Homo sapiens: one gene and its partner. The protein of the gene in region 1 purifies or fractionates together with the protein of each later gene. This does not show direct contact. Each region holds a gene or a part of one and is shown in the gene's direction. Other genes may lie near its edges.

Evidence for each region.
Region 2: the proteins of BMPR1B (region 1) and IGSF1 purify together in Homo sapiens (affinity purification with western blotting, with the first as the bait; one study listed by BioGRID). This does not show direct contact.

Annotation. Positions count from the first base shown.
Region 1 is NC_000004.12:95,145,879-95,149,701, forward strand, and holds part of BMPR1B (bone morphogenetic protein receptor type-1B isoform b precursor), read left to right. Parts: intron 1-2,869; coding exon 2,870-3,045; intron 3,046-3,823. UniProt on the Homo sapiens protein: On ligand binding, forms a receptor complex consisting of two type II and two type I transmembrane serine/threonine kinases.
Region 2 is NC_000023.11:131,282,498-131,286,320, reverse strand, and holds part of IGSF1 (immunoglobulin superfamily member 1 isoform 1 precursor), read left to right. Parts: intron 1-272; coding exon 273-554; intron 555-854; coding exon 855-1,142; coding exon of another isoform or gene 1,143-1,204; exon of another isoform or gene 1,205-2,155; intron 2,156-3,056; coding exon 3,057-3,341; intron 3,342-3,583; coding exon 3,584-3,823. UniProt on the Homo sapiens protein: Seems to be a coreceptor in inhibin signaling, but seems not to be a high-affinity inhibin receptor. Antagonizes activin A signaling in the presence or absence of inhibin B.

The DNA of each region.
Region 1 (3,823 bases):
TAGAAATTGGTAAGATCTCATTTTATGGCCCATGCAGTCCAGAGATTTTTACATTTCCCTTTAAATTATCCATAGCAAAGTTTAGTGTAAACAAACCTTTTCCTTCTTTCATTTAAAGTACATTATTTTCCTGTCATGTGCAAGACACACTGCGAATGGAGAAGGATTGGGGCTATGCTCTTTGGGGATATACCAAATGACTATGACAAGTATTTGGGGGCTCAGAGGAGTTGATAGTCTTCAGTTGGAAAACAGATTACTTACTCAAATGTTACTAGGGAGAAGATTTATTCAGCTACTACTAGGGCAAACGTCTAGGGTGGGAGAGGAAGGGGAGGAGAGAGATGGCTTATTGCTGAACATGCATATGTATTTAAGGGACTATGTAAAGGACTGATTTTTGGCATTTGGTGGACATTCAGAATCCTTGAGTGTATGTTTTTGCAGTGTTTGAGAAAAAGAATTTAGAGATGAACTATGTATACTCCAGCTGTCACAAATTTTAATTCTATTATTAGGTCACAATTACCTTTCATTTTTCTAATAGATATCTCTACATCACACATTCCATTATCTTTTCCTGACCTCCCAAATCCAAATAAACATTAAGGAGCTAAGAGTAAGAATGGAATGAAATTGCCTAAAATCTTTATCAACTGTGGTCAGATTACACCTTTGGCCTTTCTAAATGCCCTTCTGTGTGGATTGTCTTAAGATTCTTCTTGTTCTGGAATACAGTGGAGGTCTTTAACCATCTTCTTTTCATCTGCAAACCCTCATGTTTGTTTTCTCTGCATGGGACCCAGGACTTCTTACCTGGGGTCACCACTATCTTCCTCATGATTAAAAATTAAAATTAGGACATGCTGGCACCACATTAGTGAAATCCCTACTCTGCTCCCATGAGAGGTGTCAGCAGGTGGAGTAGGAGGAGAGCGTGCTTTATAAATGGAAATGGAGCTTTTGTAGCATCTATTCAATCTGACATGTTTCCAGTTTACCATTAAGTCTCTTCTCAGCATACTTTCCTCCCCTGTCATTTATCATTTACACATACAAATGACAATTTTCTATTATACCAATAAGTGCTGAGAATTAACATTTTAGCCTCTTTTTCCAGTTTTAGAAAAGATCCCAGAACACTGGGACCTATGTTTGCATATGGTAAAGAATACCATCTGTTTTGTTTTTTAATTACACTTTAACTTTTTTTTTAACGTCTTAACTTTTATTTAAGAAAACAGGCTAGTTATTATTGCACCTAGAAAACCACGAGGGGCCTAATGAGTACACTGATGACATATCTGTTGATATGTCATCTTATCTAAAACATAAAATTTTAGATTAAGAATTCTAGCCGGAAGTGACTTTAAAATGTTCTAAAATGAAGTTTTGCATTTTATGTTTTAGTAAATGTAAAAATTTTGAGATATTCAGAATGACACTTAAAATGTTCTCAAATGACAAAAAATGACACCATGTATTTCATGTTGTAGAAGTGGTCAAGGCAATGAGATCAAACCCAGAGGTTTTTGATTTTTGTTTTTTTCCTGAAGCCACTAGTGTTTTGGTATTGACTATCTATGACAGCAGGATAAGTGTGATATTCGATAAATGAATCTGTTTTCCAGGCTGAGGAGAAATAACATGTAAATTCTTGAAAGTCAATAGAGTGTAATGAAAAGCAAAAGCAAAAAAAAAAATTGTTGGGAATCAGGAGGTAGAAAGGTTTATTCAAGATTTTCCACAGAGTTCAGCTTAATAATGAGTTTCTGTACCTTTTTGGTTTTATAGTATACCTTATTTGGTTATAGTCTGTTCATCTGTCATATCTAGGGTTTGTTACTTTTCTACCTAGTTCCTTTACTTTCTGATGAGTTACAGTACTTAAGTATCTAATATGTGCCTAGTACCATGTTGGCAGGGCTTGTACATGTCATCTCATTTAATCATCAGCCTAGTCATTCAGCACCCTTAGAACAGGGGCTGGAACTGTGGCTCCAGCTCATCGCACTGAAGCAATGGTTCCCAAGTGCCAGTGTGCAGGTTGTTGTCCCTCCGTCATTACTCTTTTCCCAGTCTATGGGAAGGAATAGTAAATGGGCCTGTTGTAAAATTTTCAGAAAGTTAAAGATGTTATATTCCATTATTGTTTTCTTCCTTTGAAAAAAAAAGTTAAATGCTATTTGGTTCATAAAACAATAGTGATAGCAGAAAGCTTTTTTATATGTCCCACCTTGTCAGAGTAAAACAATTGCATGTCTTTGTTGGTTCTCTCCTTCTCCCCTTTTGAAACCTGTTTATAGATCTAAGAGCTTTACAACAGCTGGCTTAAAAAATACTGTTTCACATGAAATTGTCATGTGTGCATGCCCATTTTAAGAGTAAAGTTTTTAAAATAGGAGGGGAAGGAAGAGGGTTTTTTTAGATATTTAATATATATTTAGCAGTTGTTTAGGGTATAAATTTGATCTATTGGTAATGCAATTTTAAATGCTGCAGCTTCATTCTGACTGAGTTTTATCTTCATTGTTTTTTTTTTCTAACTTTTTTTAAGAGATGGCATCTCACTATGTTGCCCAGTCAGGCCTTGAACCTCTAGGCTCAAGCTATCCTTCCACCTCAGCCTCCAGAATAGCTGGGCCTACAGGCATGCACCACAGTATCAGCTTGCCTTTCATTGGCTTTTAACCTGTAAATATTTAATATAGCTTTTGGCAAGAAATATTCTTTAAGAAATTGTTTTTATTCCCTGGAAAGTTTTTCTTTTCCACTTTTCACTAACTAAAGCCATTGTTTCAGAATCACCTTGATTCGTTTTTGTTGGTCCTCTTCAATGCTGTAATGCTTTGCTTTACTTTTTCCTTAGTGATACAAATGAAGTTGACATACCACCTAACACTCGAGTTGGCACCAAACGCTATATGCCTCCAGAAGTGTTGGACGAGAGCTTGAACAGAAATCACTTCCAGTCTTACATCATGGCTGACATGTATAGTTTTGGCCTCATCCTTTGGGAGGTTGCTAGGAGATGTGTATCAGGAGGTAAGAAACAGTGCTGTCTTTGAAAAGCTACTATTGGAGCTACTATAAATCCTTTCTTTCTGATCAGAAATCAAAGTTATCATACTGTCTATAAGATCTGGTTTTATTTTCCCCTTTATTTCTGTTGATGCAGTCATAGTGCTTCCAGGAAATTATATTCGACATCCTAGAATAATCTTTGACTGCTTCCTTCCTCCAGCTGCCACTAGACACACTGTCAGCCTACCCTGCTTTTTCAAGCATCACTGTTTTCTGCTCTGTGTATTGTCTTATTTCTGTCTTGGGTTCTTCCTCCAGCAGTTGCTCGATGAAATCAAACCCCCTTTTCTGTCCCTGCCAGTTTATTCTCACCTAGCTGCTGGGCCCCATCCCCAACTCCATTCCCTGGGATTTCCTCTGCAGAGATGACAGTAGGCCATAAATGTGGGGTCGGACACCCATTTCTTACCTGCTGTATTTTTTATAAAACTTCCCCATAAAGCAATTTGAAAACATCAGTTTTTTATCAAAAGGAAATTAAAGTATCAGAGTATTATTTTTTTATATTGTTTTTTCTACACATATGAGGATTCCCTAGTAAAAACAATTATAATGAACAAGAAGACATATTTAAATATTCAGAAGTATTATTACTTGTACTATTTTGATTGCTCTACAGTCTGTCTTCGAGTAAATTCTGACACCTTTTAGGCAAGGAGCTGAATCTTTGGCTTTTCTGTATCAACTCTTCTGTATGTTATTCCATGGTTGTGCTCATTAAAAAACCTTGATGCTGCTG
Region 2 (3,823 bases), on another chromosome or scaffold:
GAATCAGAGGACTTGGTTTCCTATGGCATGGTGAAAAAGCTTTATCTCAGATGGAAAAGAGACCATCAGACTTTATTCTCCAATTCATTTGGACCCCTTGACAAAATATCTTGGGGTTCTTATACGATGCCCCACAGGAGCACACTCCTGTCCCCAAGGGAAGACAAAATGAGGGATCTGGGTCCGGGCTAATTTTAAGGGACATTGTGGGACATGTTATGGGAGGGAGAGGGTTGGACTGCTCATATCTTTTTGATCTTTGGGAATAACAGTGATGGACCCTCAACCAGAGTTGTGGATAGAGTCCAACTACCCCCAGGCCCCTTGGGAGAACATCACGCTTTGGTGCCGAAGCCCCTCTCGGATATCAAGCAAGTTCCTGCTGCTGAAGGATAAGACACAGATGACCTGGATCCGCCCTTCCCACAAGACCTTCCAAGTTTCATTCCTTATAGGTGCCCTTACTGAGTCCAATGCAGGTCTTTACCGGTGCTGCTACTGGAAGGAGACAGGCTGGTCAAAGCCCAGTAAAGTTCTAGAGTTGGAGGCACCAGGTAAGATGACAGTGATACTCAAGAATCAACTCCAGCTCCTGAGATTCAAACTTGCCTTCCAGGGGAGAGTTTGTTTCACAAATGCATGCAAGCATGCATCCCACAGTTAGTAAATAAGGGCCTACTTTGTATTGGGCAATGCAGAGGGGGGATGCAGACTCTGGAGCAGAGATAGGAGAAGGAGGGGTGGCAAACAAGGATCATACAGGGAAACCTCAATTAAAGTAGAGCTCTCCTCTGCTGCTCCCTAGACAGTACTATCCTTGCTTTACCTAATTCCAGTTCATTCTATCCTTCCAGGCCAACTGCCCAAGCCCATCTTCTGGATTCAGGCTGAGACCCCCGCTCTTCCTGGGTGTAATGTTAACATCCTCTGCCATGGCTGGCTGCAGGATTTGGTATTCATGCTGTTTAAAGAGGGATATGCAGAGCCTGTGGATTACCAAGTCCCAACTGGGACAATGGCCATATTCTCCATTGACAACCTGACACCTGAGGATGAAGGGGTTTACATCTGCCGCACTCATATCCAGATGCTCCCCACCCTGTGGTCAGAGCCCAGCAACCCCCTGAAGCTGGTTGTAGCAGGTGGGTGTGGCTATGGCTGCTGGCATCTGGCAATTGTTGTCCCAGGTATCATGGCTGGCTGAGCTAGGGTTTCTGATTTTACTTTCCTCAGCCAGTTTCTAGGCCCTGCAAGGCCCCATGAGCTACAGTCGTTTGAAGTTTTACTGAGATATAAATTAGAATGGCATGTGCTGCAAGGCAGATGTATGGGAGCCAATCATTTGGCTAGTAAAGGAGCCCAGCCAACTGGCCAGCAGCTTCAGCTCATCACAGCTTTGTTGTTCTCAACTTGTTGAATATCATGCATTCATTCATTAATTCAACCAGTATTTATTGAGCACCTAATATGTGCCAGGCACTGCCACTGCAATCTTATAAATGGAGTTTTAAATTTGCAAATGTATTTTATTTGTAATTGTTATTTTTATGTGTGGAAAACAGAATGGATTGCTAGTGTTGGTGAGTAAAAACAAAAAAAAACAAATGACAAAGAATGTGATAGCTCATATTTTAGAAATGGCTTTATAAATCACCTTGGTTCCCTATCAGTAGAGCTAGTAAGGCAGCACCAATCTCTAAATATAGAAGAAATTTCCCCAAAATGTAAAATGCCAGACATGTCCCAGCCCGAACTCCCCCACCCCATGGCCTGGAGGTTTCTAGATGGAATTGGCCACATTTGCTTTAGTCTCTCTATCCAGCTAAATAGGCTTGGGGAAAGCTGTGGTGCTACAGAAAGTACCCTAGACTTAGAAGCAGTAATACTGGTTTCTAGTTCTATTTCTGACACTGCCTCCCTGTGTGGTCTTGAGCAAGTCACTTCACTTTTCTGTGCTTTGGCTTCCTCTACTCTAAAAATGGGATAACAGTATCTATCTGATCTACTGTGTAATGCTTCTCTCTGTGCCTCAGCTTCCTGATCTGCAAAATTGGTTTAATAATAATGCCTACCTCACAGGGTTGTTGTGAGGATTTGCCTAAATATATATGTACAGTGCCTGGCATATAAGTTCTCAATAAATGGTAGATATTAATTTTGTTAGTATAGCTTTTTATTGAGGATCAAAGAACAAAAACTGCCTGTTTGAACTGAGTGTATGAATGTTTGTTGTACTCATGCCCTTTCAGCATAGATTCCACTAAAATACACTTCCGTAGTTACCTGTTCACCAATATCCCCCACCAACCAGTTCATGAGCTTTTTGCTAGCGGAGACTGTGTCTTCTTTACTCATACACACCTAGACCTACATGACGCTTGATGCATACTAAATGCTCAGTGAGCATATGACAGAGCTGATCCTTCCTTAATGAATAGATAAGTGTGCCTGGCATTGGGGTGGGGGTAGGAAGGAGTGGTAGGAGGTGAGGTTTGCCCTCACTTTCATGTAAAATCTCCTTGGAGAAACAATTCATGGAAAGGAATGTGTGGCCCCATAACAAAGATTTATTTGGGTCGCAGACTTACTGGCCAAACCCTCTTTATTGGCTTCTTTCAGTCTTGTTGTAGAAGTAGGGTCTTAAATGAGCTTAATGTATTCAAAAGCTCTCCTTAATATTTCAGTGGCATTCATGCTCTGCAAAGATGAAAACAATGTTATTTTCAGAGGTTTGGTTTTTCTGGTGGTTGAAAGAACTACATTTGGCATTTCAGGGGCCTAAAGATACAGGGAATTATAGATGTAGATCTTCCACTGAGATACACCCCTACACATGGTTAGAGCTCAGTGAAGCTGGCAGATTCTTGAGAGAGAACAGGGGCATAAGTGAATCTACCCTTGATTATGTTACAGAGGCAGAGATCCAAGGAAGGGATAGGGAAGAGAAGGTAAACTTCAGCTACCACTTCTTGTTCAAAGAAATTAAGAAAGAGAAAACAGAAGACAACAGGAAAGAATCATCTTGCCTCTAACTTTAGGGTCTCTTCCGTTTGTAGGACTCTACCCCAAACCAACTTTGACAGCCCATCCTGGGCCCATCATGGCACCTGGAGAAAGCCTGAATCTCAGGTGCCAAGGGCCAATCTATGGAATGACCTTTGCTCTAATGAGGGTTGAAGACTTGGAGAAGTCCTTTTACCACAAGAAGACAATAAAAAATGAGGCAAATTTCTTCTTCCAGTCTTTGAAGATCCAAGATACTGGACATTACCTCTGTTTTTACTATGACGCATCATATAGAGGTTCACTCCTTAGTGATGTCCTGAAAATCTGGGTGACTGGTAAGAGACGGGTATGCCATGAAACTTAGGTTAACGGCTAAGGATATAAATCTCCCTCTGTGCTCCCTGGAGAACCTAATCCTGTGGCCAGGGTTAACAGTAGAGAAGGGAGCAGAATTTGTAAAACTGGGTGTAGGCAGGTTTTTCCAAGGGTGGTTTGGAGGAAGAGAAGGAAAAGAATCTTAAGGAGTGGGAGCAGGAAGTGAAATCACTAGTGCTTTTTATTCTGGGTCTCATCCTAGACACTTTCCCCAAGACCTGGCTACTTGCTCGGCCCAGTGCTGTGGTCCAAATGGGTCAGAATGTGAGCCTACGGTGTCGAGGACCAGTGGATGGAGTGGGTCTTGCACTCTATAAGAAAGGAGAAGACAAACCACTTCAATTTTTGGATGCCACCAGCATCGATGACAACACATCATTCTTCCTCAACAATGTAACCTACAGTGATACTGGCATCTATAGCTGCCACTATCTTCTCACCT